7 linked regions of the Homo sapiens genome follow. The protein of the gene in region 7 purifies or fractionates together with the protein of the main gene of each other region. This does not show direct contact. Each region holds a gene or a part of one and is shown on either strand. Other genes may lie near its edges.

Evidence for each region.
Region 1: the proteins of PTAFR (region 7) and GOLGA5 purify together in Homo sapiens (affinity purification with mass spectrometry; one large-scale study listed by BioGRID and IntAct). This does not show direct contact.
Region 2: the proteins of PTAFR (region 7) and TM9SF4 purify together in Homo sapiens (affinity purification with mass spectrometry; one large-scale study listed by BioGRID and IntAct). This does not show direct contact.
Region 3: the proteins of PTAFR (region 7) and SCAMP2 purify together in Homo sapiens (affinity purification with mass spectrometry; one large-scale study listed by BioGRID and IntAct). This does not show direct contact.
Region 4: the proteins of PTAFR (region 7) and KIAA2013 purify together in Homo sapiens (affinity purification with mass spectrometry; one large-scale study listed by BioGRID and IntAct). This does not show direct contact.
Region 5: the proteins of PTAFR (region 7) and PGAP4 purify together in Homo sapiens (affinity purification with mass spectrometry; one large-scale study listed by BioGRID and IntAct). This does not show direct contact.
Region 6: the proteins of PTAFR (region 7) and TM9SF1 purify together in Homo sapiens (affinity purification with mass spectrometry; one large-scale study listed by BioGRID and IntAct). This does not show direct contact.

What each region holds. Positions count from the first base shown.
Region 1 is NC_000014.9:92,807,805-92,811,304, forward strand, and holds part of GOLGA5 (golgin subfamily A member 5), read left to right. Parts: intron 1-1,495; coding exon 1,496-1,715; intron 1,716-2,449; coding exon 2,450-2,573; intron 2,574-3,500. UniProt on the Homo sapiens protein: Involved in maintaining Golgi structure. Stimulates the formation of Golgi stacks and ribbons. Involved in intra-Golgi retrograde transport.
Region 2 is NC_000020.11:32,143,574-32,148,155, reverse strand, and holds part of TM9SF4 (transmembrane 9 superfamily member 4 isoform 1 precursor), read right to left. Parts: intron 3,066-4,582; coding exon 2,947-3,065; intron 2,845-2,946; coding exon 2,733-2,844; intron 1,372-2,732; coding exon 1,301-1,371; intron 1-1,300. UniProt on the Homo sapiens protein: Associates with proteins harboring glycine-rich transmembrane domains and ensures their efficient localization to the cell surface.
Region 3 is NC_000015.10:74,866,287-74,870,868, forward strand, and holds part of SCAMP2 (secretory carrier-associated membrane protein 2), read right to left. Parts: intron 1-4,582. UniProt on the Homo sapiens protein: Functions in post-Golgi recycling pathways. Acts as a recycling carrier to the cell surface.
Region 4 is NC_000001.11:11,920,973-11,924,222, reverse strand, and holds part of KIAA2013 (uncharacterized protein KIAA2013 precursor), read left to right. Parts: intron 1-733; coding exon 734-1,587; intron 1,588-3,250.
Region 5 is NC_000009.12:101,477,174-101,481,755, forward strand, and holds part of PGAP4 (GPI-N-acetylgalactosamine transferase PGAP4), read right to left. Parts: intron 4,334-4,582; exon of another isoform or gene 4,190-4,333; intron 3,553-4,189; exon of another isoform or gene 3,498-3,552; intron 2,751-3,497; exon of another isoform or gene 2,667-2,750; intron 1-2,666. UniProt on the Homo sapiens protein: Golgi-resident glycosylphosphatidylinositol (GPI)-N-acetylgalactosamine transferase that catalyzes the N-acetyl-beta-D-galactosamine transfer from an UDP-N-acetyl-alpha-D-galactosamine to the 4-OH-position of the first mannose of the glycosylphosphatidylinositol (GPI) of a GPI-anchored protein (GPI-AP).
Region 6 is NC_000014.9:24,192,129-24,197,265, reverse strand, and holds the start of TM9SF1 (transmembrane 9 superfamily member 1 isoform a precursor), read left to right. Parts: upstream 1-1,824; 5' UTR 1,825-1,920; intron 1,921-2,229; 5' UTR 2,230-2,246; coding exon 2,247-2,591; intron 2,592-3,996; coding exon 3,997-4,618; intron 4,619-4,909; coding exon 4,910-5,095; intron 5,096-5,137.
Region 7 is NC_000001.11:28,173,484-28,178,790, reverse strand, and holds the start of PTAFR (platelet-activating factor receptor), read left to right. Parts: upstream 1-2,100; 5' UTR 2,101-2,199; intron 2,200-5,307. UniProt on the Homo sapiens protein: Receptor for platelet activating factor, a chemotactic phospholipid mediator that possesses potent inflammatory, smooth-muscle contractile and hypotensive activity.

The sequences.
Region 1 (3,500 bases), on a different chromosome or scaffold from region 7:
GTGTGGCTGAGAAGAAAACGAGTGACAAAATTGCTGCCTTGGTTCCTGGGGCTAATTAGAAAGGAGTGAGGGGATGGTGGGAAAAGTTTTGCCAAGCCATGGATAGAGCCTAGAAGAGAGGAAAGGGAAGATAGTTGAAGACTCACTAAGCTAGGCGTGGTGGCTCACGCCTGTAATCCCAACACTTTGGGAGGCCGAGGCGGGCGGATCACAAGGTCAGGAGTTCAAGACCAGTCTGGCCAACATGGTGAAACCCGTCTCTACTAAAAATACAAAAAAATTAGCTGGGCATGGTGGCGCGTGCCTGTTATTCCAGCTACTCAGGAGGCTGAGGGAGGAGAATTGCCTGAACCCAGACCCAGGACCCAGGAGGTGGAGGTTGCAGTGAGCCGAGATCGTGCCACTGCATTCCAGCCTGAGCTACAGAGCGAGACTCGTCTCAACAACAACAACAACAACAACAAAAACAAAGTACTCACTAGTCAGGCTGACTTTAGAAAAAGCTTTACTTTACCCACACTAATTTAGACATAGAAATAGAGCTGTTTGGCCAGGCACAGTGAGTCACGCCTGTAATCCCAGCGCTTTGGAAGGCTGAGATGGGAAAATTGCTGAAGCCAGGAGTTCAATAACAGCATGGGCAACAGAGTGAGACCCCTGGGCTACAAAAATCAATTTTTTTTTGTTTTAAATTAGCTGAATATGGTGGTGTACACCTGTAGGCTGAGCTACTTTGGAGACTGAGGTGGGAGGATTGCTTGAGCCCAGGAGTTGGAGGTTGCAGTGAGTCATGGGCCATGATCATGCCACTGCACTCCAGCCGGGGCAACAGAGTGAGGCTCTGTCTCATGTTTTTGGGTTTTTTTTTTTTTCTTTAAGAAAGGTGTGTCTCACTGGAAAAAAAAAAAAAGCTTTGAGACCCTATAAAGTTTGATTCAGTATTTTTAAAATGTTGTGGTGGCTAACTGCAATTACATATGGTATGTGAGGGTATGGAAATGCCATTGTATTCTGAAATAGAGCACTACTTTGCTCTTTTTGCATTGATTTCCTAGGTCAAAAGAATAACATCTTTTTGCAACAGTAATTGAAAGCAATAGATTCTTTTCTGTGTTTAGGTTTTGTTTTGTTCTTACTAGGATGTACCTTTGATTTGGATTTGCATTCCTTTCCCTGTCACTAGCAGAACTTTACAAAATATACTCTGCTATCTATTAATACTAGTTTCGGCTCCCAGATGCTTTATCATATAGAAACAGCATTGTAGAAGAGCAGCTAGCTTCACGCCCCTTTCTAATCAATTAACTATAATCTAGCTGTGAATATTGCCCTTGAAAAGTGGATGACCCTTTGGGGCAAAGAAAATTGAAGACGTGTAAGTTCCCAATTTTGTCAATAAGGAAAGTACTAAAGGCACTCAAAGTAGAAACTGTACGTGCTCTGAGAAAAATGTGTTTGGTTTTGCTTGTATAGAGAAATTTAAATTTTTTAATAGAATTAAACAAAGCAAGAGCAAGAGTTGAAAAGTGGAATGCTGACCATTCAAAGAGTGATCGAATGACTCGAGGACTCCGAGCCCAAGTAGATGACCTGACTGAAGCTGTGGCTGCAAAGGATTCCCAGCTGGCTGTACTGAAAGTGAGACTCCAGGAAGCTGACCAGCTACTGAGTACTCGCACAGAAGCATTAGAAGCCTTACAGAGTGAAAAATCACGGTAGGTGATTCTATGAATAATGAAAAAAATGAGCAAGTAATGGTAAACATTGTAGTGTATCCACTTATGAAACTTAGCTTTCTTGGAAATTTACAAGAGGGAATATTTCTTTTGGTAGTGTTAGAAATGTGTATGATTAAAATGGATTCATTGGCTGGGCGTGGTGGCTCAAGCCTGTAATCCTAGCACTTTGGGAAGCCGAGGCAGGTGGATCACCTGAGGTTGGGAGTTCGAGACCAGCCTGACCAACATGGAGAAACCCCGTCTCTACTAAAAATACAGAAAAAAAATTAGCCGGGGGTGGTGGCACATGCCTGTAATCCCAGCTACTCAGGAGGCGAGGCAGCAGAATCACTTGAACCCAGGAGGTGGAGGTTGCAGTGAGCTGAGATTGTGCCATTGCACTCCAGCCTGGGCAAAAAGAGCGAAACTCCATCTCAACAACAACAACATAAAATGGATTCATTGTTTGAACCTTGAGATGCATTGTTAGCAAATTCTGAATTTAAAAGCATTTGTTGTGTCATTAATCTTTCATTATACGGTATGTACTTAATATTTGGATGCCTAAAAATGTAGATTATGTTCCATTAGAAAGGAAAGATTTATCTAAGAATATTTCAGTCAAATTATCTTTTTTGTGCTTGACTAAAGCTGACGCTCTAAAAATTATTCTGCCTTATCACTTGTACACTGTAGACATGAGTTATTTCACATGATGCATTTTCCTTTAGAATAATGCAGGATCAAAGTGAAGGTAACAGCCTGCAGAATCAAGCTCTGCAGACTTTTCAGGAGAGACTGCATGAAGCGGATGCCACTCTGAAGAGAGAGCAGGAGAGCTATAAACAGATGCAGGTTAGAATGAGAGACAGCAGATTCCTATTGTTACTTGGACACGGAAAAAATGACTTTATGCTGTTTCATAGCACATTAACTGTCTAATATAATTCTGCAATGCATTTCAGAAAATTCTGTTTCTGTGACAAAAATCAGATATTTGAAAATTTAGCTTGATCCTTGCTAAATGTATTTAATTTTATGTGTTGAGAGACAATTAAAATAGTTAATGTGCATTAGAGATATACATCTTTTACTTAATTTTTGCAACAATCATTGTCATTATTTGATTAAATGCTAATGGTTGGGGGATCGTATTTGTTTTTTATTAATTTAAGTTTTTCTGATTCCAGATTAATCTGGCTCATTTATTTCAGGAGAAAATTGTATGTAATATGTAAAGAGTTTTACTCTTAGATGAATATTTGCATTTAGTTCAGTCCCAGCCCTGTCTACACGTGGGAATCACTTGTGTGATACCTTGTGCTGTCTGAGCTCCATATGCAGTCACATTCCATTGTATGAGGTAGGGACTAGGTATTGACACTTTGGTTTTAGAAGGTTCACAGGTGTATCTAATGAGCAGTCAGGGTTGCAAACCACTGGTCTGGGCTAGCTTTTCAACAGGTGAAAGTAATTCAGTCCTGAAAGTAAATATCAGGTAGTGTGTGTCTCTTAATTTTAACACAATATATCCAAAGTATTAATTATTTCAATATGTAGTCAATATTAAAAGTTATTAATGAGATATTTTACATTATTTTTTGAATACTGGTTCTTTAAAATATGGTGTAATTTACACCTATTTATTTACTTATTAAATTGGAAACAGTTGATCAGCTAGTATCAGACCAGACCTAGTATCCAAGTGACCAGGTTCACCTGGGAAATTTCTTAAAAAACAGATTCCCAGACCCATCTTGAAAATTCCAGTTTAGTAAGCTT
Region 2 (4,582 bases), on a different chromosome or scaffold from region 7:
TTACATTCGAAATTTTAGATTTTTTGGTTTTATTTATTTATTTATGAGACGGAGTCTTGCTCTGTTGCCCAGGCTGTAGTACAGTGGTGTGATCTCGGCTCACTGCAACCTCTACCTCCCAGGTTCAAGTGATCTCCGGCCTCAGCATCCCGAGTAGCTGGAACTACAGGCACCTGCCACCAGGCTCAGCTAATTTTTGTATTTTAGTAGAGACAGGTTTTCACCATGTTGGTCAGGCTGGTCTTGAACTCCTAACCTCAAGTTATCTACTGTCCTCTAGTTTTTTTTTTTTTTTTTCCTTTGGAGACAGAGTCTTACTTTGTTGCCCAGGCTGGAGTGCAGTGGCACGTTCTTGGCTCACTACAACCTCCGCCTTCTGGGTTCAAGTGATTCTCCTGCCTCAGCCTCCTGAGTAGCTGGGATTGCAGGTGCATGCCACCACACCCAGCTAATTTTTGTATTTTTATTAGAGACGAAGTTTTCACATGTTGGTCAGGCTGGTCTTGAACTCCTGATCTCAAGTGATCCACCTGCCTTGGCCTCCCAAAGTGCTGAGATAACAGGTGTGAGCCACCGTGCCCAGCCCCGACCTAGTTTTTTTTAAAACAAAGAGATTTTGCATGAATTCTTTAAACTGTGCCATTTTTTTCAAGTTTGTTGCAGATATTGTTTGCCATTGTGGCCTTCTGTTTTGTTTATGTATTTGGCATGCAGAATAGTTTTACAATTTTTAATGTCAAATCAATCAACTATTTTTTGTGATTTCTTCCACGGTTTTTATGCTTTAAAATTAGAAAGGCCATCCCTATCACTTTGGGTGAATAAAACTTTTTTCCTTACTTTTTTGGTATTACATTTTTAGTATTAAAAGTATACTAGGCCAGGCGTGGTGGCTCATGCCTGTAATCCCAGTACTTTCGGAGGCCGAGGCAGATGATCATGAGGTCAGGAGACTGAGACCATCCTGGCTAACATGGCAAACCCCGTTTCTACTAAAAAATACAAAAAGTTAGCAAGGTGTGGTGGTGCGTGCCTGTAGTCTCAGCTATTCGGGAGGTTGAGGTGGGGAATTGCTTGAACCCGGGAGGTGGAGATTGCAATGAGCCGAGATCACACCACTGCACTCCAGCCTGGTGACAGAGCGAGACTCCGTCTCAAAAAAAAAAAAAAAAAGTATACTAAACTGTTTTAGTATTTTGAGGTTTCCTCTTTGAATGATAATATACACAAACATATGCACACACACGGTCCTCCTCCCCTCCCCATCCAACTTCATCCCTCCCCAGCCAAGACCTCGTACAATGTCATCCTCCTTGTTGTAGTTGGCAATGTCCTTCCGGAGGGTCCGAATGATAATCATGCTCAGGATACCTGAAATAGATGGCGGTGAGGATGAGGAGAAGTTGGCGCTGCCAGCAAGCCCATGCTCCATGCCCTCCTAGACATGATGTTTTACTGTGCGACAGCTGGCATGCACGGCTTGCTCCATTATGAACTGGCTATGCAGCCACCTCAAGGCCTCTTCTCGGGGGAGCTCCACTCCAGCTACCAGGGGAGGAGAGCACAGAGCATGGAGGTGGGGAGGAAAGGGTTGCTGGGATGGGTAGGGGTATCCTGGGGAGAGGAGCATCCCAGCTGTTCCATCGCTTGGTCCTACTGACTTCTCAGCTCATGTGTCCAAGGGCTGCCTGTGGCTCCACCTCTGGCTATCTGCTGCTTCAGTTGGCTCCTGGCCTCACTATGTTCTCATCAGCACGCCTTTCTTCAAGCTATCCTTTTTGCCCAGAATGCCCCGCCATATCCTGACTGACTCCTACGCGTGCTTCGAGGCTCACTCTGGGCATCTTCACGTCCCAGCACCCTGAACAGTACAGAGCCACTCCCACCCCCATTTGTACTTTCCTGTTTCCCTCTCTAGGCAGCACTGTAGTGGTTAAGAGAATGGGCCATATGACCTTGAGTTCACTTAACATTTTCGGGCCTAGTTCACAGGGCTTCAGGGATTGAAATGTTTGTAAAGTGCTTAGTTCAGCAGCTGGCCCTTTGGTAAATGTTTAATAAACAGTATTTAGCATTATCTGTGCTTCTCATATGATAGTGAAACCATCAGTGTCATTCTACCCCTGCCTACCACCCTCTCACCACCCGGTTTCTTGCTGAGCTTATCTCGCTGCAGGACCATGATCCTCACTGGCACAGACTTTTCCCAGGTCTCTGGATGGTGGCTCCTTATCGTAAAGAAAGGTCTTCCCCAAAGAGCCTTCACACTTTCCTCAGCTATTGTGTATTTGGCCACCCTGTTGATCTGCTTCATAGAATGTATCACTATCTGGAACTCCACTACTTATTTGCTTTTTTGTTTCTCTCCCACCACTAGAATATAGGCTCTATGGGAGCAGAGACTGGGTCGGGCTTGTTCATACCATATTCCCAGCATCTGGCAAAGTGCCTGGCACAGAATGAGCAACAACAACATCTTGTTGAATGAATCAAGAATGTGTGCAGGCTCAGGTGTGTCTGTCCTCCATGAATGAGCTCTCCAGAGTTCTAGAGCTCTCTAGAGATGAGTCTTGTTTACCTATGTACACCTGATGCTTAGCAGAGCCCTGATGTCTGTTTTTGACCTACGCCTGACCCTCAGAACACCCTGGAAGTCCCCCATACATGATGTGATGTCTCAGTCCCTCAACCCCAACCCCCATCCCCTTTCCCTCAACCCACAGATCTCTCACCTGACAGGAAGAAGACCACAACAACGGAGTTAATGATAGAAAACCAGTGGATCTGGACGTCACTCATGGTCAGGTAAGTGTCCCAGCGAGAGGCCCATTTGATATCACTTTCCTGGCAGGTGGGAGGAAGCACTTAGAGTCAGGCATCCTGCTGGAGAACCTGACACAGACCAGAGCCCTCCTCCCCTGCCCATGAGCTCCAGCCCCTTCTCACCTCCCAGTGGACAGAGTAGGTGAAGTACAGCTGATTCTCCTTGGTGGGGTCAATTTCTTGGGGCGAGGAGTTGGTACCCTCAGGCAGAGTGCACGAACTCTTCTCATCTGCTTTGAGGTCTGAGAGAGACACAGACTCAGTCTGTTCCTGTGGTGGCCAGTGCCACTGCCCAGGGGCTATTCCAGGGGCTGCCCTCAAGGCTGCCTGTCGCGGAGACCCAGCCTCTAGGGTGGGAGTGGAGACTGGGAGCACAATGGGCAACAATGGTTTTTTTTCATTTTTTATTTTTAAACCTTATTTTTTTAGAGATAGAGTTTTGCCCTGTCACGCAGACAATGGCACAATCATAGCTCACTGCAGCCTCAACCTCCTAGGCTCAAGTCATCCTTCTGCTTCAGCTTCCGGAGTAGCTGGGACTACAGGTGTGTGTCACCACACCTGGCTAATTTTAAGACATTTTTTTGTAGGGACAAGGTCCTTTTATGTTTCCCAGGCTGGTCTTGAACTCCTGGCCTGATGCAATCCTTCTGTGTTGGCCTCCCAAAGCGCTGGGATCACAGGTGTGAGCCACCATGCCTGGCCAACAATGGTTTTTGAAAATTATTCCTCAGAGCCCTGACTTTCTGAAGGTCCTTAGGGGCTGCAGAGAGGCCTGTGCATGGGGGAAGGGAGGGGCCTGAGTCGGAGTTCCTCCCTGAGTCAGTGTTCCTTCACTCAATTCAAACGTTCACCTACCATCCAGCCAGTCCCATTCAACATAAAACCTTGATCCATTCCATCATGCCTACTCATTCATTTAGTCTATCTCTAAAGCCCTGGCACTTTCGTGATCAATCATTCAGATGTTTTCTCCATTCATTTGCTCATCTGTTCATCCTGTTATCCATCTACTCATTCAACCAACAACATATAATAAGCACCAACTATGGGCCAGGTACTGTGCTAGGTGCTTAAGATAAAATGGTGAGCTGGGCGCGGTGGCTCACGCCTGTAATCCAAGCACTTTGGGAGGCCAAGGCAGGCAGATCACGAGGTCCGGAGTTTGAGACCAGCCTGGCCAACATGGTGAAACCCCGTCTCTACTAAAAATACAAAAATTAGCCAGGTGCGGTAGTGGGCGCCTATAATCCTAGCTACTTAGGAGGCTGAGGCAGGAGAATTGCTTGAACCCAGGAGACGCAGGTTGCAGTGAGCGGAGATCGCGCCACTGCACTCCAGCCTGGGTGACAGAGCAAGACTCTGTCTTGGGGGGAAAAAAAAAGATAAAATGGTAAGAAAAGGAGACAGGGAGACTCTAAGCTTGAAGAGCCAGTGGGGGAGCAGGTGGCCTCAAAAGCGTCACACATGCAAACGTAGAACTGCGCTCGGGAAGCTCCCAGGGGAGATGTGCTATGGAGCTCTTGAAGGGCAGGATCTATGTTTGGGACTTCTGTGTCTAATTTTGTTTGAACACTAAGTTCCACAGTGGAAAAAAAAAAAAAGTCCAAATACCACCAACATGGTCAAAATCCTGGGCATGCTGCTTAATTAAAAAGCACACTGTGATGATCAAGGGCCAAGAGGTGAGGCAAAGCCGGACCAGCTCCTGTGAGGCCCATCAGGACTGTGCTGGACTCTCAAACTCCCGCACACCTGT
Region 3 (4,582 bases), on a different chromosome or scaffold from region 7:
CCTAAGAGACCATTAAGATCTAAGAGTGAGGACATGCCTGGGGGTGCAGGGGTAAGAGTGGACACAGGAGTACAGGGATGACAGCAAGCAGGAGCGACTTTTGGTTCTTGGCACTACTTCACCCAAAAATACTCTGTTTTCTGGCCGGGCGTGGTGGCTCACACCTGTAATCCTAGCATTCCGGGAGACCGAGGTGGGTGGATCACCTGAGATCAGGAGTTTGAGACCAGCCTGACCAACGTGGTTGAAACCCCACCTCTACGAAAAATACAAAAATTAGCCAGGCATGCTAGTGCACGCCTGTAATCCCAGCTACTCGGGAGTGTGACTCTGTCTCAAAAAATAAATGAATAACCCTGTTTTCCCATCTGCCAGGCTTTCTGCTTTCAGTCCAAGCCCTCTGTGCCACAGGTCTCTGCCCTTCCTCCTGAGAGCCCTCCCAGCTCCTTTGGACACTGCCCTGATCCCACTTGTGATGTGCTGTCACTCTCAGTGAGCATTTATTTTCTTTCTTTTTTTTTTTTTTTTGAGATGGAGTCTCGCTCTGTCATGCAGGCTGGGGGGCAGTGGTGCAATCTCGGCTCGCTGCAACCTCCGCCTCCCGGGTTCAAGCGATTCTCCTGCCTCAGCCTCCCGAGTAGCTGGAACTACAGGTGCCCGCCATCACGCCTGGCTAATTTTTGCATTTTTAGTAGAGATGGGGTTTCACCATATTGGCCAGGCTGGTCTCGAACTCCTGACCTTGTGATCCGCCCGCCTTGGCCTCCCAAAGTGCTGGGATTACAGGCGTGAGCCACTGCGCCCCAGCCTCAGTGAGTATTTCTTAGCTCTCCTGCCAGAAGCCATTGATCACATACTGTGCTCATTTACCATGGTCTCCTGCACAGGCCTGCAGAGCAGCATGACCTCAGTGATGTGCACTAACGTGAACATCTCAAAGCAGCACTTGCTGGATGGGTCACAGTTTGCAAATGTGCACAGCACTCTTCTCTGAATGAACAGCAAGTACCCCTTGTTTGTCCTGGTTAAATATTACCATTTCTCTGAAATTAAGATTATCTTACCCCAAGTGTTTCCAAAGAAGACTTAACGGAAGAGTCAAAGTTCACCTATCTCTCTACCCAAGTTTTAACACCCAGCCTGGCTCCAGGTGCCAACCATAAAGGCAGGAATCCTATCTGGGCAGCTGTCTGTAGTCACAGTGAAGCTGTAAGAACCCTGCCATTTTCAAATTTCTTGAGACAATGCTCTGTTACACAGGAAAGTTCTACCAGGTCCATCTGGTTATTCCAAGAATTCCCAAAGTTATGGTCAAGCTGGGGCCAACCCTCTCTGGGAAGGTCCCACTGTCTGCACAGGGAAATTCAAGTAACTTTGTTCACACCCAAATCACGTTTCTGCCACCACTTCTTCCTTCCACAGGAGAGAAATATTTCAAATCCTTGGGAAGCAGCCACAACACTGAGATTATCTTTTAACTGCAAGGAGGCAATGTGTGAAAGTGATATTGTGTGACTTGGCAACTTACAAACACTGAAAGGTTTTCTCTGTTCAATGCCACCACCTATTCCACTTCCTCTCCTTGAGATCAATGCTGTCTGCCTGGGATAATCTGGCAGAAGTGCTGAGTGGGAAAGCAGCCCTAGGCACTTGCCTGGGTGGTCTGATTTTTAGTGGACTGCTGAAAAATGGACAGTACAATGACTCCCTTTAGCTTTCCACCCCTTCATCACCTGACAAGACTTAATGAGAAACTTTTGGGAGCAGACACCCTGGATCATTCCAAAGCAGAGACCGAAATACTCAGAGGGTACAAAGCAGCTGCCATAACCAACAGAGGAATTAGGGTGTGCCAGTGGAGGCTGTGAAATCAACAACACTTGGCTTGCAGTTTCCTGCTTCCTCCTAGGAGGTGGGCAAACCTCTGTGGCACACTCATATCTTAACTTCCCATTCACAGCTCTTTCTGTGCAGGAAGTTTTCTAATCATCCCGATCATAACCACACGCAAGGAAGAGGTCATAAAAGCACATGCCCACAGTGCGGGGTGGAAGCAGGCACTTAATAAAGAACCTTGGATGAGGAAGTCAACTAAATGGTGCACTGGGAGTTTCAAAGGATATAACGACTGAGCAGAAAACAGATTCCATGGTCGAATAACCTTGAGAAATGCTGGGTCAAATAAAGCTGAGCCAATGTCTTTTTGTAGGATTTCTCAGAGCCTTTAACAAACTAACAGGCCTTGTGAATCTTTATTTTGGTTTGTTTGTTTTTTGAGATAGAGTTTCACTCTATTACCCAGGCTGGAGTGCAAAGGCACTCCTCAGCTCACTGCAACCTCCACCTCCCAGGCTCAAGTGATCCCCCTGTGGCAGCCTCCCGAGTAGCTGAGCCCACAGGTGCATGCCACCACACCCAGCTAATTTTTTGTATTTGTTGTAGAGATGGGGTTTTGCCATGTTGCCTAGGCCATTCTCAAACTCATGACCTCAAGTGATCCACCTGCCTTGGCCTCCCAAATTGCTGAGATTATAGGTGTGAGCCACCATGCCTGGCCAAGCCTTGTGAATCTTTGAAAAAACAAACAGGCTGGGCACAGTGGCTCACGCCTGTAATCCTAGCACTTTGGGAGGCTGAGGCGGGTGGATCACCTGAGGTCTGGAGTTCGTGACCAGCCTGGCCAACATGGTAAAACCCTGTCTCTAGTAAAAATACAGAAATTCTGAGCGTGGTGGTGGGTGCCTGTAATCCTACCTACTCAGGAGGCTGAGGCAGGAGAATCGCTTGAACCCAGGAGGTGGAGACTGCAGTGAGCCAAGATCGCACCATTGCACTCTAGCCTGGGCAAAAGAGCGAAACACCATCTCAAAAAACATAAACAAAGAAACAAAAACGAAATAGGTAGCAATTCCCAAACCTATTTGACCACAGAACCATGAGCACCTTTCAGGACTGGCATTACTCAGAATATATATTGCTTTAAAGAACTGTCTTAAAAAGCCCAAGAATTGTTCTCCAGTGGAAAAAAAAAACCAATAATAAAAAATAAAAAAATTAAAGAACAAAAGCACAAGATCTGTATTATTCCATCCCCTCACACTGGAGAAAAAATGTAGCTTAGCTAATACTAATTTGTTACTTTCACCACTCCCAGTACTCTCAAGAATGGTGACAACTGTGATGATGTTACATTCCATTCTTTCCTTAGCCAGCCTAAAATAGCCCCAGTGCAGTTTAACACCAATGTCTGAGCTTCAAAACCTTTAAAACAGCCCTGTCCTGGGAATGAGACCCAGGTCAGCACCTTCCTGCTGCTAAACAACTGATGACTCTGGCACATACCATCCTCATTGAGGTCTTGGTTTCCTCATCTCTAAACTGAAGAGGTTAGAATAGAGTTCTAAGAATGTTCTCAGCTCTTAACAGTCAACTATGAGCTCTGAACACTAGGTATATTTTTGCAATCCACCATTTCTGTCACTGCATGACGGAAATAAAAACGACTGTTCTGGAGTGTGACTAGGTGTGACAGTTTCTGAGTCTATCGCCTCTCCACCTGCTCTCTCCTGAGCTTGGTGCCAACACCCTGAGTAAATGAAGCTGGGCTCACACCCAGGCACCCAAGGGCTACACCTCCCAACGTCCTAGCCCTGGCAGTCAAGGAAGCAGACATCACCATCTCAAGGAAAAGGTGGGCAGCTCTGACCAGGAGAAGGTTCAGAGGCCTCACATCCAAAGCTGTTTCTCCCCACACCACTGTGTGCCAAGAGGAAAAGCCCAGCCCAGGATGAGGAGGAGCAAATCGCAGCCAGCCAGCCAGCTTTCTTCTTCCCACCCAGGACTCCCCACCAGATGTGGCTGGTTGACAGGACCACAGCTGCTTCCTGTCATGCCATATCCTGGGGCTTCCTGATGGACAGACTGTCTCGCTAGAATGCAGAAGTTACTTCTACCACAGTTTGCACAGTCATTTTTGGAGCCAGAGATGAGGTTTAAGACTTTCAAGCAGCTATTAATACAGGGTAGAACTATCTTGCCCTCTGCTAACACTGGAGCAAAGCTCTCTGCATTTTTAGACAACTGACTTCCTCTCTGTCAGACAGCAGCAGACTTTTTATTTCTGATTCTGAGAGGACAAAAAAACACACATAAAAAATGGAAAATCATCACATACAACATACACCATAAGGCTACAAGATCCTACTAAAACCCAAACCCCAGTATTATACAGCAGTTTTGTAATTAAAGTCTGTTACCAGAAGACATTGGCAGAAAAAAAAAATGCAAATCTTCTTTCTTTACTCAATAGAGATGACTGTTTGCCTTACATAAGAGACAAGGTCCTTGCAAACGCTCTGTCAAGAAACATTAAGCTACGAGAGGAATGTTCAGAATTCCCTGATGTTCTAAGGAACAAGCTATCAGAATTTGCCCTGAGGGCTCCTGTTGGCTAAGACACCTTGAGACCAAGAAAGAAGCAAAACATTTTCACTCTCCTGACAGCGTATAATTATTTAGTTCAAGTCTCCTTTGATTTTGCTCTGACCCTTGAAGCGATTCAAAGTGGGAAAACTCATGCTGT
Region 4 (3,250 bases), about 16 Mb from region 7:
CAAAGTGCTGGGATTACAGGCGTGAGCCACCGCGCCCGGCGAGAGGATGGTCATCTTCACAGAAACAAAGTTGTGTGTGTGTATGTTTTTAAATCTTAGGGCTGTTGAATCCATCAGTAGCAAAGGGGCCCAGCACGTGTTTATTCAGCAAGTGTCTATTGAATGCTTCTGCCAGGGCTGTTTTAGGCATGGGTGGTGGCCTGCACCTGTAGTCCCAGCTACTCAAAGGCTGAGACGGGAGAATCACTTGAACCCGGGAGGCGGAGGCTGTAGTAACCTGAGATCGTTCCACTGCACTCAAGCCTGGGCAACACAGTGAGACTCTGTCTCAATAAACAAATAAATACATACATACATAAAGCTACAAGACTGGAGAGAGAAAGGACAGAGAGGAGAAGTGGCCTGAGACTGGCCTCAGCACTGGTGACTGATCTGGCGCAGGATGTCTGACCATAGGGTTGGTGCCAAGTCCTGGCTAAGTCTGTGTTCCTCTGGGCTCTGGCACCAGGCCCCGCTGCTTTTTAACAGGATTCTAGATTTCAGGCCCACAGGCTCAAGTTGGTCGTGTAAACAAGACAGGCTGACTTTCTTCTATACTTTAGGGAGATGGGCACCACTGTCTTTATCATTAAGGCACAACACCTCACTCTTCTGCTGCCCTTGGTCTTTATTTCGTATGCTCTGCCTCCCAGCTGTCCTTCCCCCTTAACATGCCGCTTTCATGGTGTTGCAGGAGTGGAAATGAAGAAGATCACTGACACCCACACGCCGTCTGGCCTCACCGTGAACCTGACGCTCTATTACATGCTCTCCTGCTCGCCAGCCCCACTGCTCAGCCCCTCCCTGAGCCACAGGGAGCGAGACCAGATGGAGTCGACGCTCAACTATGAAGATCACTGCTTCAGCGGGCACGCCACCATGCACGCCGAGAACCTGTGGCCGGGGCGGCTGTCCTCCGTCCAGCAGATCCTGCAGCTCTCTGACCTGTGGAGGCTGACCCTCCAGAAGCGTGGCTGCAAGGGGCTGGTGAAGGTGGGTGCCCCAGGCATCCTGCAGGGGATGGTGCTCAGCTTTGGGGGGCTGCAGTTCACAGAGAACCACCTCCAGTTCCAGGCCGACCCCGACGTGCTGCACAACAGCTATGCATTGCATGGCATCCGCTACAAGAACGACCATATCAACCTGGCCGTGCTGGCGGATGCCGAGGGCAAGCCCTACCTACACGTGTCCGTGGAGTCCCGTGGCCAGCCTGTCAAGATCTATGCCTGCAAGGCAGGCTGCCTGGACGAGCCAGTGGAGCTGACCTCGGCGCCCACGGGCCACACCTTCTCGGTCATGGTGACACAGCCCATCACGCCACTGCTCTACATCTCCACCGACCTCACACACCTGCAGGACCTGCGGCACACGCTGCACCTCAAGGCCATCCTGGCCCATGATGAGCACATGGCCCAGCAGGACCCCGGGCTGCCCTTCCTCTTCTGGTTCAGCGTGGCCTCCCTAATCACCCTCTTCCACCTCTTCCTCTTCAAGCTCATCTACAACGAGTACTGTGGGCCTGGAGCCAAGCCCCTCTTCAGGAGTAAGGTAGGAAGCCGCCATCTGGTCGAAACCCGAGGCCTTGGCCTTGCTCTCAGCCCTGTGTCTCGGAAGGGGCTAGCCTGGCGAGGGGGGGTGAGGCCTGGGCAGGAATGGGTGTCCTGATGCCCTCAGCCCTTGACACCAGAGAGCGCGCACAAGTGTTTTGAGAGGAGACGACGAGGAAGGGAAAGCTGGAAATCCAGGTGTGAATTGATGGTCTTCTGGCTTTCCAGGGCAGCCCTCCCCTCCTCCCGCATCATAAATCTCAGCATTTAAAAATAACTGCAAGCTGGGTGTGGTGGCTTGTGCCTGTAGTCCCAGCTACTTGGGAGGCTGAGATGGGAGAATCCCTTGAGCCCAGGAGTTTGAGGCTGCAGTGAACTATGATTGTGTCATTGCACTCTAGCTGGGGCAACAGAGCAAGACCCTGTCTCAAAAAAGCAAAAAACAAAAAAGCAAATAAAAGTAAAAAAAAAAAAAAAAAAAAAATTAGAGGCAGGGCCTGGTGGCTCATGCCTATAATCTCAACACTTTGGGAGGCCGAGGTGGGAGGATCCTTCGAGCCCAGTAGTTTGAGACCAGCCTGGGCAGGATAACGAGGACTTGTCTCTACAAAAAATTTAAAAATCAGCCAGGCGTGATGGTGCACGCTTGTAGTCCCAGCTACTTAGGAGGCTGAGGTGGGAGGATCACTTGAGCCCAGGAGTTTGAGACTGCAGTGAGCTGTGATTACACCATTGCACTCCATCCCAGGTGACAGAGTGAGACCCTGTCTAAAAATAATAATAATGAGGCTGGGTGCAGTGGCTCATGCCTATAATCCCAGTACTTTGGGAGGCTGAGGCGGGCAGATCACCTGAGGTCAGGAGTTCAAGACCAGCCTGGCCAACACGGTGAAACCCCATCTGTACTAAAAATACAAAAATTAGCTGGGCATGGTGGTGCATGCCTGTAATTCCAGCTACTCGGGAGGCTGAGGCAGGAGAATTGCTTGAACCCGGGAGACGGAGGTTGCAGTGACCCGAGATCATGCCAGTGCACTCCAGCCTGGGTGACAGAGTGAGACTCTGTCTCAAAAAAATAAAAAATAAATAATAAATAATAATAATAATAAAATAAAAATAACTGCAACAAGCCCCTAGATTGACTTGAAGCCTCTGTCTGAACTGCTGGCGGGATCCCCAGCTTCCCCCCATGTGCCTGTTCATGGCATGCAGAGGTCAGCCCCTTGCTCCAGGCCTCGGACCAGAGTGGCCATCTCGTTAGCATAGGACACAGGACAGAAGCATTGCCCTCAAGTTTCCTGAGACATGTTTGCCCCTGGAAGCGGTGATTTTGGCCATCATTGCTGCAAGACTGTCATCGGGGCAGCATCTTAGCATCAGCATTGCTGTCGCGGGGTGAGGCTGCCTACTGTGCCCTGCCGCCCGGCCTTCTGTGCTTCCTCAGGAGAAAGACCAGCAGGGATTCCAGGGGGAGGCCTTTGTTAGCAGTTGTAGAAGAAAATGTTTCCCAAAGAGCTGAGCTGTTTCCCTTTCTCTTCTCTCCTCCTGTATCCCGTCTCCTCCCCTCTACTCTTCCTCCCCTCCCCTCCCTTCTCTTCTTTTCTCCTTTATCTTCTCTTTTTAAACTGTAGTGACAGTAGAGAGGTATATTAGGCTCTGCGTCT
Region 5 (4,582 bases), on a different chromosome or scaffold from region 7:
AGAGAGAGGAAGTAGGGAATGGTAAGAGTAACTTAAAAAAACAAACAAACAAACAAACAAAAAAACAAAAGGACAAGAACTGAGCTCAGCACATATCAAACCAGAAATTATAATAGGAGGCTCTGTAGCTTCTACAGACTCTAAAGTATTTTCTACAGTAAACCATTCTTTGGTTGTGTCTGCTAACAACCTCTGGATGTTTTTATTATTTCTATGAGTAATACGATCTCGGTGCATTCAACCAAATCATCACGCCTAAAGATACTTAGTTAGGTTTACAATGCCAGAAAATCTCCAGGTAGGCTGTTGGGATCATTATTTCTATTCACCAGCTACACAGACAATGGGTTCTTAAAACGGGGGCAAAAAAGCAAGGCTTGGCACAAAGGAAATATACACATTTAGAGCAAGTTCCAGAATAAGGGCCCAGAAAATACTTGTTGATTAACTGTGCATATAGCAATTTCCAAAAAAAACTTGTCCAACAAGAGAAGGAATACTTAGGATTCTCTGAAGTATCTTTGTTATTTAATGTCATTTTCCATTCATATGCTTCTAATCTCACACAACTATACTTAACATTGCATATTAATTTAATCCTGATTGTTCTCCCATTTTATTTTTATAGATCATGGGAACCAATGAGAGGAAGTATTTCCCATAAGCAAGCAAACTCTAGAGCCCCAGGCTTGGGGAGGGAGGAAACATCTGGAGGAAGATCCATGAGTAGCTTTTCAATGAGGGAGCGGGGGGGGAAAGGCAGAGGTGAATATGGAAGAGACAGTTGCCCTCAGTTTGGTCCAGGAAAAAATGCTGTGTGATATGATGATTCAGAGCATGGGCCTGAGGCCAGGCTCATATTGGTGTGAATCCTAGCTCTGCCTCTCATTTGGTGGGAAGTTTACCTCTCCATATCTTATATTTCTTAGCTCTAAAATGGAAATAATAATATCTGTCTCATAGGGTTACTGTGAATATTAAATGTGTTAGAAAGCAAAATAATGCAGAGTAAAAATGCCATTAAAATCTATCCATGTGTTCAAACTCACAAAAATATTTTAGAAGTAAGCAGGTCTAATATTCTGATGGAAAACAGACTAGTGCCAAAAAACAGAATGAAAAGGGCAAAGCCAGTATAAAATAATAATTGCTAGTAAGGTCAATGCAAAACTAAATGGTGTCTGCAGTACAGAAAGTAAATCTGTTGCCTCAGACGCATCATAAGGTTTACACACATTTGGAGGAAAACTGTATAGTTTGTGAGTTATTGCAAAGGGAGGATTGCCCAGGAACCATACGAGGCTGCTGTGGAGCAGACTCAGCCAGTGCTCTCATATCCATGGTCTCCCCTTGGGCACACAGAAAGACCTCATTTCCTAGTTTGCCTTCTCCAGGTGGAGTCATGTGACTAGGGCTTGTCAGCAAAGTGACAGGTGTCACACCTGGGACAAGGTAGTTGAGAACAGATGTGCCATCTCGACTTTCTCTTTCCCCATCTGCCAGCTGAATGGAGAGCCCTGGTGGATCTAGAGGAGGTACAGCCACCAGATGGCAGAAGCCTGGGTCCTTGAATCCTTTACATACATATCCCAGTGTTGGGACGGCATGGAACAGATGTCCCTTCCGCTGCCCACCTCCCAGTACCCTCCCAAACTAGAGTGGACTGTGTTGTGAGCAATACATAAACCACTGTGTCTAGACACCAATAATTTTTGGACTTTATTACAGCAGTTAGCCTACTCTGCCCTCTACAGTTGTGTAGAATACCAAATGTACAGTGACATGGTTAATTTCTCAAGTAGAGAAACAAGTTTCATTTCAGCCACAGAAGCAGATTGTACTATGGGACTCCAAAGGTGAGACAGACTATCCTAGTACTAAGAGATCTGGATAGTACCCAAAGAGGGAACAAAGCAAGGAGAGGTTTGAATTATGCAACCCCAGTCTTGCTGGTTTGTGAACATCCAGCATATTGCAGACTGGTTGCTTCTTCCTCTGCTCTGCTCAGCGCAATGGAGTTAACAAACCATGTGGTTGAACGTGATTGAACGTGGCCTCACCACTTCCACATCACTGCTGATGGAAGCCAATACTAGAATTGGGCTGAACTCCCACTCCTGCAGTATTGGCCTTGGAAAAGGAGGCATTCGAGTGGATTTCTGCTCATACTATTATCCCTGCCTTTGTTATTACCACAAGGGAGCTGGATCAATCTAGAGGAGGGAACTAGAGACAATGAGATAGGGCAGGCAGTTTGGAAAATGCCAGGCACATAGTAAAGGCTATCACTTACTATGATATGTCAGGGGGGAAAGAAATGGAAACACCTAGAACTGACATCAGGAGAACCTTTGGTCCCAGGGAATTTATCCTACTGGGGACAATAAAATCATTAACATCTCACATAGTCCTTTACTTTAAAACTACGTCTGTGAGACTGCTGTTCTACTGACAATCAGGAAAAGAGAGGGATTTGGTTCAGAGGACACATGGTCCCTACCTATATTGATCAGCTTTGCTGGGGTGATTAACAGCCTCAAATCTTTATAACTTAAAGTGATAACATGTATTTCTTGCATACGGGTTTGTGGATAGCTGTGGCTCAGTTGGGGTCAGCTCCAGAATGTAGGTCAGAATTAGCTCATGCCACATGCCCCTCCTTCTAGATCAAGCTGCAGAGGAAACAGCCACCTGGGGCGTGTTCTTACGTTGCCTGGAAGCTGCACAAGAGGCCAAGTCAAAACATGCAGGTACATTTACATCCTTGTTTCAGTGTGCCACAAATCAAGTCCACTCATCATTCATTGGCCAAAACAATGGGACAGGAAGATTTACTCCTCCCACAGAGCAGAAGGAGGGGAAAATGAAGATTCAATAGAAAAAAAAAAGGCAACAGGCCAATTTCTAAATCCTCAGGAGAAAAGAAAGCATCTAGCAATCTGCTCACGGAGTATGGAAATTTTTTTTAGAATGCTTACAGGGCTTAAGACCCGGCCCCCAACCCCAATCATTACACACTACACGAATAAGGACAGGCTTCAGTAATGATCCCCAAAATCTCAGTGGCTTATAAGAACTAAGGTTTAATTCTTGTTCATAGTACTTGTCCTTTACAGGTCAATTGTGCCTCTGTTGCCTGTTGTTTGTACTCTAGGACCCAGGCAGATAGAACTGTTTTTTGTTGTTGTTGTTGTTTGTTTGTTTGTTTGTTTTTAACATTGCTGGTTTTGTGGTAGAGAGAAAAAAGGGGAATAGTGCACCACAAGCTGGCTCTCAAAGCCACTGCTCAAAAGTGACACAGATCACTTCCACCCACATTTCACTGACTGGAACAAATCACATAATAACTCAAATTCAACAGAGCAGAAGGGAGTGCCAAAAGATACATGGCCACACCTGAGACCAATGACTGGAGAAATATTTGTATTCCAGGGAGGGGCAGAAAATGTACTCCAGGGAGGGGCATTTTGAACATTAATGCAATCTACCACACCCACCTAGGACACAGGAGCTGGGATCAGATCCTTCATTCAAGATTAGATGACTGCTTTGCTGAAAATCCAACCACATGGAGTTATGTAGTCATTCAGGAGTATGTTCTTGTTTACTTTTTAAAACATTTTTTTAAAAGATTTAACCAATTGTTGCACAGTAGCCTGTGGTGTCCAATGGCACCTATAATTTATTTCACCTTACTGATCTGGTTTTAAGAAGAATGGCCAGCTGGATGTGGTGCCTGAAGCCTGTAATCCCAGCACTTTAGGAGGCTGAGGCAGGTGGATGGCTTGAGCCCAGGAGATTGAGACCAGCCTGGGCAACATGGCAAAACCTAGTCTCAACAAAAGATACAAAAATTAGCCAGGCATGGTAGCATGTTCCTGTAGTCCTAGCTACTCAGTAGGCTGAGGCAGGAGGATTGCCTGAGCCCCAGCAGGTCGAGGCCGCAGTGAGCTGTGATCGCACCACCGCACTCCAGCCTGGTTGACAGAGAAAAACCCTGTCTCAAACAAAAACAAACAAACACACAAACAAAAAAAGATAAAAGATAAATGGCCTTAGGGGAACAGATATAAAAACATAGGATTTTTCACTGCTAGTTTGGGGAAGGAGTTTTTTTACTCCCAGCCCAATCATAAGGGTGAGACAAGAGGGCTATGTCTATGTTACCACTCTGATTGTCTTTTTCCAGAATTCCAGTTGCCCATGATGTCACAGGCTGAGGCCCACACTCCAGAGACACTGTGGACTGACTGGCACCTATGAGCTGACCTAATAACAGTTACACCATTACAGCTCCGATTCTACAGAACAATACATATCCAGTTCTTATCTATGCTTTGCATGTGCTCTTTGAAACACAACCCTTCCCTAAACAGAATTCTCTACCTGTTACCATATCTAGAGTGTAGGGCTCAGGGAAGACAGTAAAGGACACAGACTCTGAGAAATGAACATGAACTAGGGCTTAGATGAATAAATGGAGCTACAACAATAGTTATATTTTAGTGCAACTTCTGAAAATTAAACTAAAGGATCCACGGGTGTGGAAGACACAATACCAGGGTGTGAGTCAGGGGATGAG
Region 6 (5,137 bases), on a different chromosome or scaffold from region 7:
ATATTCAGGAAATAAGTGGAGAGGGCTTGGTGACACTGATATCTGAGCGGGAAGATAGAGAGAAAGAGGCCCAAGTTTCTGGCTTTAGAGACCAGGTGGTTGTCAGTTAGAGATTATTTCTAAGCCACTCTCAGTTCTTGTTCTTTTTTCTTTTTCTTTTTCTTTTTTTTTTTTTTTTTGAGATGGAGTCCCGCTCTGTTGCCCAGGCTGGAGTGCAATGGCCTGATCTCGGTTCACTGCAACCTCCGCTTCCCAGGTTCAAGCTATTCTCCTGCCTCAGCCTCACAAGTGGCTGGGGTTACAGGCGCCCGCCACCAGGCCCAGCTAATTTTTTTGTATTTTTAGTAGAGACAGGGTTTCGCCATGTTAGGCTGGTCTCGAACTCCCGACCTCGGGTGATCTGCCCGCCTTGGCCTCCCAAAGTGCTGGTATTACAGGCGTGAGCCCACCGCGCCCGACCTCAGTTCTTTTTCTAATTAGAAAATTCACTGATTGTCTAACAAAACTCCACCATCTGCTTCTTTGAACCTCACCTATATCTGCAGGGAAAGAACTGGGTCAGAAAGGGCAGTAATTGTAGAAGCAGGTAAATTAAGGGCTTTTCAGGCCAGAAGTCACTTGTGATTTTTCCACTGTGCTTCTTCCCCTGGGGAGAGAGAAGCTTAAGTCCACTTCCTTACACGTTGCTCCCAGGTGGCAAAACAGAAGTCACTGCTCAAAGGTCCGATTTTCAAGGGGAACTCCCTAGACGGCAGATCCCCTTTAAAACAGCTGAGACAAACACAAGGGTAAACTTTTTCAAAATAATCTGCCATACAAAGTGAAGAGAAGCCCAAAGACATACACAGTGATAAATAAGAACAAAAACATAGACTAACGGACCTCGAGATACTTTACCGTCAATTAACAATAACCATGTTAGGCTGCCCAACTCACAGAGTCAAAGGACAGACCTCTCTCCTTGCGCGCCTCTGCGCCAAACCGGGTTTCGGCTTGCTTATCGTGGGCTCTGAACGGTCACTGTGCGGCCAGGGAAGTCTCCAGCACAGCCTCGGGAAGACATTCCTATTACATATTTATCACTTTGGCGCTGGCCATTCGTGACAGGTGGGAGACGAGTGAGGTGAGATTCAGATGTTGGGACCCTTGCATGGGACAGATGCCCAAAGCTTCGCCCCTTCCCCGGTTTGGGGGCCACGAACCGCCTCTCAGGGCTCAGCCTCAGCAGCAGGTGGTTCAGCCGGAAAGTGCTTCGAACCCAGACGCCGCCTGCGCTCCATCTCCCCGGCCCTCGCTAGTCCCGTCCCGCGGGGACAGCTCTCGGGCCTCGGCCAGCGCGAGCCTCCTGGCCAAGAGCTCTCAAACCCCAAATCTTTCCAGGAGCAAGCGAGCGGCCTAGCAGCCACTCCTCTCCCGAAGGGGTGTCAGGGTCCTCGCTGCCAGGCCTCAGCCCCCTCCCCGGGAAGCCGTCGCGAAGGAGTCCCCAGGGGCCGCAGCAGCGAAGGCCCTCTGCGTTCCAGGCAAGGAGCTTTCCGCCAGGCTGAGGTCGCCGCCGGTGAGGGCGGAAGTGGTAAGACTGACGTGTCCTGGGCCGCGCTGCCGATCGCCGGGAGGACCCCCGCCTCGCCGAAGACGGGCGGGGCAAGCCGAGCCTCACGGGGTCCCCGGAGCTGGGCCGGGCCTCCAGATGGAGAAGGCGCAACGGGGAGTTCTTGAGTAAGCCAGAGCGGTGTCCAGCGCGGTGTAGCCGCAGCCGCCGCTGTCAGGCGCAGCAACGGGCAACCCCGTAGAAGTCGGTCGGCAGGTCCTCTCCAACCCGCCGCTACCGCGCCGCTGTGGGAGAGACCCCAGCAGGAGCCCAAAGGCAGCTACGGGGGCGCGAAGGCCGCTGGCGCCGCCTCGGCCAGCCCTTCCCGCGCGGTGAGGACCCCGGGGCTGTGGCGGGAAGGGACCCGAGGTGCGAGACCGAGCGGCGTTGCCATGGAAACGGGCCAGGGCGCGTAGTAGAGGCCCCGGGCCAGACGGGCTGCGGGTGGGGTGAACCCCAGGTTGGGAGGATGAGAGAGCAGAGGTGGAGCGGGGTCTTTGGGATAGAGAGACGTGGGGTAGGGTGAGGCGGGGAGGGGGCCAATGGGAGCAAGTGGAGCCAGGGGACCTCAGTTCGAGGCACCTGACCTGGGGTTTCTGTAACCTCCCTGGTTTCTATAACCTCAGGATTCCCCCAAACAGGTTCCACTGCCTTAAGGATGACAGTCGTAGGGAACCCTCGAAGTTGGAGCTGCCAGTGGTTGCCAATCCTGATACTGTTGCTGGGCACAGGCCATGGGCCAGGGGTGGAAGGCGTGACACACTACAAGGCCGGCGACCCTGTTATTCTGTATGTCAACAAAGTGGGACCCTACCATAACCCTCAGGAAACTTACCACTACTATCAGCTTCCAGTCTGCTGCCCTGAGAAGATACGTCACAAAAGCCTTAGCCTGGGTGAAGTGCTGGATGGGGACCGAATGGCTGAGTCTTTGTATGAGATCCGCTTTCGGGAAAACGTGGAGAAGAGAATTCTGTGCCACATGCAGCTCAGTTCTGCACAGGTCAGCCTCTCCACATTGGCTATCACGTAGCCCTCCTTCCCAGAGACTAACAGTGCCTTACATTTATGGTTCAGGGTACCTTTATGGAAATTGTCTGATTTGATTCTAACTACAATACAACCCAGTGTGGCAGGCAGGTTAGGTGATGCTATTCTAATTCAGTTGACTAAGATACATACTTGCTCAGAAGTTACTTTTTTCAAGATTACATGGACAGTGATTTGCAGAACTGATATCAGAGCCCAGGGTTTCTTACTGCAAGCTTCTCTGTTGGTCATGAGGTCCCAACTATCAGTCCCACATAGTTCTGTTTCCTTCCATGCCTACCTCTTGGCTGTTTCTTAGCTGTTTCCTGTAGTCTCTACCTAAACTTCCCTGTCATGCTTTTTCTTTAGTGAATCCTGGTACTTCTCCTTAGTCCACTCCAGACCTCCTTATACCTCACCGCTCTCCTTTTTCTAGGCCTTAACCCTGTCAAGCCATACTTGCTCTTTTTTGGAGAATCTCAACATACTAGAGTCTAACCCAGTGATTGTCAACAGGGAACAGTTTTGTCCCCCAAGGGACATTTAGCAATGTCTGGAGACATTTTTTGTTGTTACAGCTGGGGGGGTACTACCAGCATAGAATGGGAAGAGGCCAGGAAAGCTACATCCTACAGTGCACGGGATAACCCCACTATGACAAAGAATTATCCAACCCAGGCTGGGTGTGGTGGCTCACTCCTGTAATCCCAGCACTTTTTTTTTTTTTTTGAGACAGAGTCTTGCTCTGTCGCCCAGGCTGGAGTGCCGTGGCGCAATCTCGGCTCACTGCAAGCTCCACCTCCCGGGTTCACGCCATTCTCCTGCCTCAGCCTCCCGAGTAGCTGGGACTACAGGCGCCCGCCACCACGCCCAGCTAATTTTTTGTATTTTTAGTAGAGACGGGGTTTCACCGTGTTAGCCAGGATGGTCTCGATCTCCTGACCTCGTGATCTGCCCGCCTCGGCCTCCCAAAGTGTTGGGATTACAGGCATGAGCCTCCGCACCCGACCAATCCCAGCACTTTGGGAGGCCGAGGCAGGCAGATCATGAGGTCAGGAATTTGAGACTAGCCTGGCCAACATGGTGAAACCCTGTCTCTACTAAAAATACAAAAATTAGCTGGGTGTGGTGGTGGGCGCCTGTAATCCCAGCTACTCGGGAGGCTGAGGCAGGAGAATTGCTTGAACCCAGGAGGCAGAAGTTGCAGTAAGCCGAGATCGCACCACTGCACTCCAGCCTGGGTGACAGAGCAAGACTCCATCTCGAAAAAAAAGAATTATCCACCCCAAAATATCAGTAGTGCTGAAGGTGAGAAACTTTGCTGTAACTCTGCGCCTGGGGAGATCTTGTGTGACCAACTCCTGACTTGCTCTTTATAGGTGGAGCAGCTGCGCCAGGCCATTGAAGAACTGTACTACTTTGAATTTGTGGTAGATGACTTGCCAATCCGGGGCTTTGTGGGCTACATGGAGGAGAGTGGTTTCCTGCCACACAGCCACAAGATAGGACTCTGGACCCATTTGGACTTCCACCTAGAATTCCATGGAGACCGAATTATATTTGCCAATGTTTCAGTGCGGGACGTCAAGCCCCACAGCTTGGATGGGTTACGACCTGACGAGTTCCTAGGCCTTACCCACACTTATAGCGTGCGCTGGTCTGAGACTTCAGTGGAGCGTCGGAGTGACAGGCGCCGTGGTGACGATGGTGGTTTCTTTCCTCGAACACTGGAAATCCATTGGTTGTCCATCATCAACTCCATGGTGCTTGTGTTTTTACTGGTGGGTTTTGTGGCTGTCATTCTAATGCGTGTGCTTCGGAATGACCTGGCTCGGTACAACTTAGATGAGGAGACCACCTCTGCAGGTTCTGGTGATGACTTTGACCAGGGTGACAATGGCTGGAAAATTATCCATACAGATGTCTTCCGCTTCCCCCCATACCGTGGTCTGCTCTGTGCTGTGCTTGGCGTGGGTGCCCAGTTCCTGGCCCTTGGCACTGGTGAGGTGATAAAAATGAATTGGGGATTTATCTCATGGGATAGAACTAGGTAGGGAGTTTGTTCAGAAAAGGTCTGTGGATCTTCTCTTCTATCCAGAGGGGCAGACCTAAGGGATAGGGTGGCTCTAGCAAGAATGCACGTATTCTATTGTAGATTTTCTGGATAGCAAAACTGGGGGAGATTGTTTTGCTGGAGGCCCTGGGTCTGGGAGAAGGGGGGCTGATTCCTCTGAAATTGCTAGAAGAGACACAGGTGAGGCCTAACTTGGGCTTTCCGCTACCGTCCTGCAGGCATTATTGTCATGGCACTGCTGGGCATGTTCAATGTGCACCGTCATGGGGCCATTAACTCAGCAGCCATCTTGTTGTATGCCCTGACCTGCTGCATCTCTGGCTACGTGTCCAGCCACTTCTACCGGCAGATTGGAGGCGAGCGTTGGGTGTGGAACATCATTCTCACCACCAGTCTCTTCTCTGGTGAGGACTTTCCTTTCCCTGGTGGGCCTTTCTGGACTTAGG
Region 7 (5,307 bases):
GCAGGTGTGAGTGAGGGGAGACTGGGCGTGAGTGTGCAGGTGAGTGGAGGAACACAGTGTGAGTGGGCATCTTCGCATGAGAGTAGGCGCTGAGTGTATGCGAGTGTGCAAGTGTTATGTGGTCTGAGTGTGTCTGCCTGTGTGTGATGGGGGGCTGGAGGTGGAGGAGGGGGCAGATGCTTGGCTCTAGTTCTACATGACTGAGGCAAATGTTAAAAGTGGTTTGTTCTGGCCAGGCGCGGTGGGTCATGCCTGTAATCCTGGCACTTTGGGAGGCTGAGGTGGGCAGATCATTGGAGGTCAGGAGTTCAAAACCAGCCTGGCTAACATGGTGAAACCCCGTCTCTACTAAAAAGACAAAAATTAGCCGGGCGTGGCAGTGCTTGCCTGTAATCTCAGCTACTCCAGAGGCTGAGGCAGGAGAATCCCTTGAAAGTGGGAGGCAGAGGTTGCAGTGAGCTGAGATTGCATCACTGCACTCCAGCCTGGGAGACAGAGTGAGACTCTGTCTCAAAAAAAATAAAAAATAAAAAAATAAAAAAAGTGTTTTGTCCTTTGAGAGCCATTTTTGGCTTTGATAAGGGACATTAGGAGGAGGAGCCTGGCCCAGATACCCAGAGCGGAGCTGAGACTGGATGCTGATGCAGGCCCCCGACTCTCCTTATACCTGCCTTGCTGTGGGACCCTGGTCCTGTCGGGACCTCAGTTTCCCTCTCTGTGTAGGAGGTTGTTGGGTCGGCTGATGTATCTGAGGGACTTGCTTCTTTAGACAGGGTCCACCCCAGTGCCTGGTGCCTGGGGGTGCTCAGATGGTGCTTGTTGGTTGGTTGAAGGAATGAGTGGGTAAATGGACTGGAAACTGAGGCAGATACTCTGGCTCACCTCTCACTTATGCACACGGGATGCCCCCACCAGCTCACTTTCACACATACCCTCACACCTACACTCAGAGATTCATGTGCATTCACCATCGATTGTCCACCCCTCTTCACCTGCATGCTCCCATGAACTCATACGCTGCCAACCCACACCAGCCTGGGTGAAAAAAAAAAAGAAGAAAGTATGTCCAAATTTGAATCTAATCAAACCTGTTTTCAGAAAATACAGGAGACAGAGGAATAGATTAAAGGACCTCACAAGGAAGCAATCAACCAAGTCCAGAATATAGAACATTCTACTGGACAATGGAGCCAGTTCTCTCCAGAAATCAACCGCATGAACAAAAAAACAAACACAGGGCCAGGCTCAGTGGCTCATGCCTGTAATCCCAACACTTTGGGAAGCTGAGGCGGAAGGATCCCTTGAGCCCAGGAGTTTGAGACCAACCTAGGCAAAACAGGGAGACCCTATCTCTACAAAACACGGTCTCAGGGAGCTTCCACCTCCACCCCCACAGATCTGTTCCCATGGGGTTTCTGGGCTCAATGTTTCTTGGTCTCCAGGGAGGCCCTGCCCTGTCATGCCCCTGACCACAGTGGCTCTTCCGAGCTCCTCTCTTCTCCCTCCACTTTATATCCCAGCGGGCATTCTCTTTCCTCCACTCCCCTTCTTTTATTTTCTCTCTCACCCCCATCCAGAGACGCACAGACCCAAATGTGCACAGGCACATGCTCGCTGTCTGTGTCTTGTCATCTCGTCTTTTGTCTTGGATCTTACCTTGTCTTTGTCCCTGAATCTCCTTGTTCCTCTCATCTCTCCCGGTGTTTACATCTGTCTTTTTCCCTGAGCCTCGCTCCCTCCATCCATTCCTCCGCCCTCTCATTTTTTTTCCCGACTCCCTCCTGCCTCCTCCCTTTCTCCTTTGATTTTCCTGGTCCCTCATCTCTCCTCCCTCCTCTTTCTCACTCTCATGCTCCCTTTTTCGCTCTCTTGAGTACATGCACTTGCTTTCTCTCTCTTGCTTTTCCTCTTTCTCACCTTAGCTCCTGGCCTCGGGCGCTGTCTACACCCCACCCCATCCCTCGCTCTTTGAGAAGCCTCTGTGCAGTGCCCAGGTCCTGGCGGCCCAGCTTGGAAGTTCCTGTGGTACCCCTTGAGAGGCCCTAGGGCCACAGCATTTCCTCCCAGGGGTGACTTGGTAGTGATACGCTCTGTTTCTTCACTTCTGCAATTGCCAGACAGCATAGAGGCTGAGGCTGGGGCCAGGACCCAGACAGAGACACACGGTCACTGCAGCTGAAGCCGCTGCCCCTGCTACAGGTAAGGGGGAATCCTGGCCCCTGCTGGGCAAGGGGGAGGCATATAAAAATGTCCTCAGGAGGCAAACCAAGGTCATGCCCCCAGGCTGCACCTAAGCAGATGGGTGCTTCTATTTCTTTTCTTTTCTTTTTTTTTTTTTTTTTTTTTGAGACAGGGTCTCTCACTCTGTTGTCCAGGCAGAAGTGCAGTGGCGCGATCATGGCTCGCTGCAGCCTGGACCTGCCAGGCTCAGGTGATCCTCCCACTTCAGCCTCCCGAGTATCTGGGACTAGAGGCATGCTCTACCACGCCTGGCTAATTTTTGTATTTTTTGTGGAGACGAGGTCTTGCCTTGTTGCCCAGACTGGTCTCTAACTCCTGGGCTCAAGCAATCAGCCTGCCTCGGCCTCCCAAAGTGCTGGGATTGCAGGCTTGAGTCACTGTGCTCGGCTGCTTCTGTTTTTAAGGGATTTTTCTGGCACCTTTCTCAGGCCCAGAGTCTCATGTTTAGAAATAACTTCTAGTGTCCAAACATTCCTGGAGAACCCAACACCCAAGTTTGGCTTTTCTGAGGCTGGGGCAGTGCTGACCCCAGAGATCCCACTGGGAGGTGTTGATGGTGGTGATGGTGGCAGTGCTGACCCCAGAGACCCTACTGGGAGGTGGTGATGGTGGTGATGGGGGCAGCTTGGATCTCAGGGAGCCAAATGACATCTACTTGACTAGCTGTGTGGTCTTGGCCAAGTTACGCTCCATCTCTGTGCAGTTTTCTAAATTGTCAAATAATGATAATCCCATCTCCCCCACAGAATTGTCGGGTCATATAAAGGATCTGGTACAGGGCGGGGTACTTAGGAACTCACTAAATGCTAGGTTTGCGGGGTGGGGAAGGGGGTGCTGAAAATAACCAGGTTCTTATACACAGGGCCAAGCCCACAAACAATAGCCCCTATCAGGTCCCAGGTGCTGGGGACAGGGCCCAGGCTGGCACCCACCGTCCTCTGCTTGCAGGAGGTCCAGACATGGGGCTGTGCACTCACTCACTTGTGAAATATGACAGAACCAGCAGGCTCTCTCCCCACACCTCTGGCTGCTCTCCTTTAGCTCTGACTGAATACCCAGCTGTGTTCCAGGTGTTTGGGGTGGTGTGTGTGTTGGGGGAGGCGGTAGGGGTGGGAGGTGTGTTGGGGAGTGCTAGAGAAGCAAAAGAGACACCACTATCTTTAGGTGCTGACAAACCGCCGGAGAAAGAGTTCAGCCCCTTAGATGACTGGGTCCTGGGCCTCAGGTGGGCATCCGGGGTTTCGATCTCAGCTCCTGCTGACAAGCCGGGGCCTTGAGTTGTTCGGAAGTTCCACTTTCCTCCTTTGCAGATTGCAGGTTAAAATACTGACCTCTGTGGGCCGGGCATGGTGGCTCACGTCTGTAATCCCAGCACTTTAGGAGGCCGAGGCGGGTAGATCACGAGGTCAAGAGATGGAGACCATCCTGGCGAACATGGTGAAACCCCATCTCTACTAAAAATACAAAAATTAGCTGGGCGTGGTGGCGGGTGCTACTCGGGAGGCTGAGGCAGGAGAATTGCTTGAACCTGGGAGGCGGAGGTTGCAGTGAGCTGAGATGGCGCCATCGCACTCCAGCCTGGGCAACAGAGCGAGACTCCGTCTCAAAAAACAAAACAAAACAAAACAAACAAACCACTGATCTGTGAGTTTGCAGGGAGGATGAAGTAAGAGTTGGGATGGGGAAGTGCTTTGTCAATTGGAAAATGCTGCGCAAAGGGGACTGATGAATTCCCTCTAATGCTGACTCTGGGATTCCTGCTGTTAAACGCCTTAGGGATGAGGAAACTGTTTTGTTCACTGTTGTATCCTTTATCCTTAGCACAGGGTTTGCAACATAGCATATGCTTAGAATATGCACAGGACAGATGAATGATGAAGCGGTTTTTGCAGTTGGAAGGGAACGGACGGTGAGCCAGAGGCCCAGTATCTGGTCCCAGCTCTGCCCCTGACACTGTGTTCACCTTGGGAAAATCCTTTCTCATCTCCGGGCCTCAGTTTCCCCATCTGGTCATTGAAGGAGTAAGGAATTCACAGTTTATGCTATCAGTGACAAAATGTGCCTACAGGACTGAGTTTTCTCTGACTGGTGGTGGGAAGCAGGTATGAGGAGAGGCTGGGATCTTATTGTCCTTTTACAGGGAGCAGAGATTCCCCACTTCCCACCCCAGGCCTGTGAAGGAGGCCTTGTTGAAGAGGATGGCATTCTCTTTCTTGGTGGCATCCCCCACTTTCCTGTTCTGATCCCCTAGATGGGTGGAGGCTTGGACCTCAGAGAGGGCAACAGTGGAGCAGGAGCCGGCAGCACCCCTTGATGGGCCTAGGGGTGTGTGTCTGGGTCGGGAGCAGAGCCAGCTCCCAAAGGGCAAGTGCTGGGACCCTGCTGCAGCCCCCTCTCTGACCACCCCCTCTTGGGCTCCTTGACAGCATGATGAGAGCGGGGAGAAGCCTCTGGTGTGTCTTTGTGTGTGCATGTGTGTCTGTGGTTATGTGGGGTGGACAGGGAGCTGGCTCTGGCTATGTCTACATGTATCTGGAATGATGGGCCGGGAGCATATCCGGGCTGCATGTGGCCTGCTCCAGCCAGACAGCTCCCCTCCCAGGAGCAGATGGCCAGCAAAGCCAGCTGAGAGGCTGATATGCCTCTGTGTGTCTTTGGCCGAGGGGAATCACAGCCAGATTCTGTGTGTGTATTTGTTTGTGTGTTTGTGTGTGAGAGAGAGACAGAATATGCAGGGGGAGGATCACCACTCAGCCACCCCTCCCCACCCCCTTGGTTCTGTAGGTGGGAGATCTTCAGGGCCTGGGTTTGGAGTTGAGCTTGGCTGGCTAATGGGAGAAGCATGTCAAAACCAAATTTGTGCATACCCCGCCCCCCCTCCTCTTTTTTTTTTTCTTTTGAGACAGAGTCTTGCTCTGTCACGCAGGCTGGAATGCAGTGGCGTGATCACACCTCACTGCAGCCTCGATCTCCTGGGCTCAAGCAGTCCTCCCACCTCAGTCTCTCGAGTAGCTGATACTGTAGGTGCACACCATCTTGCCTGATTAATTTTTGTGTTTTTGTTTT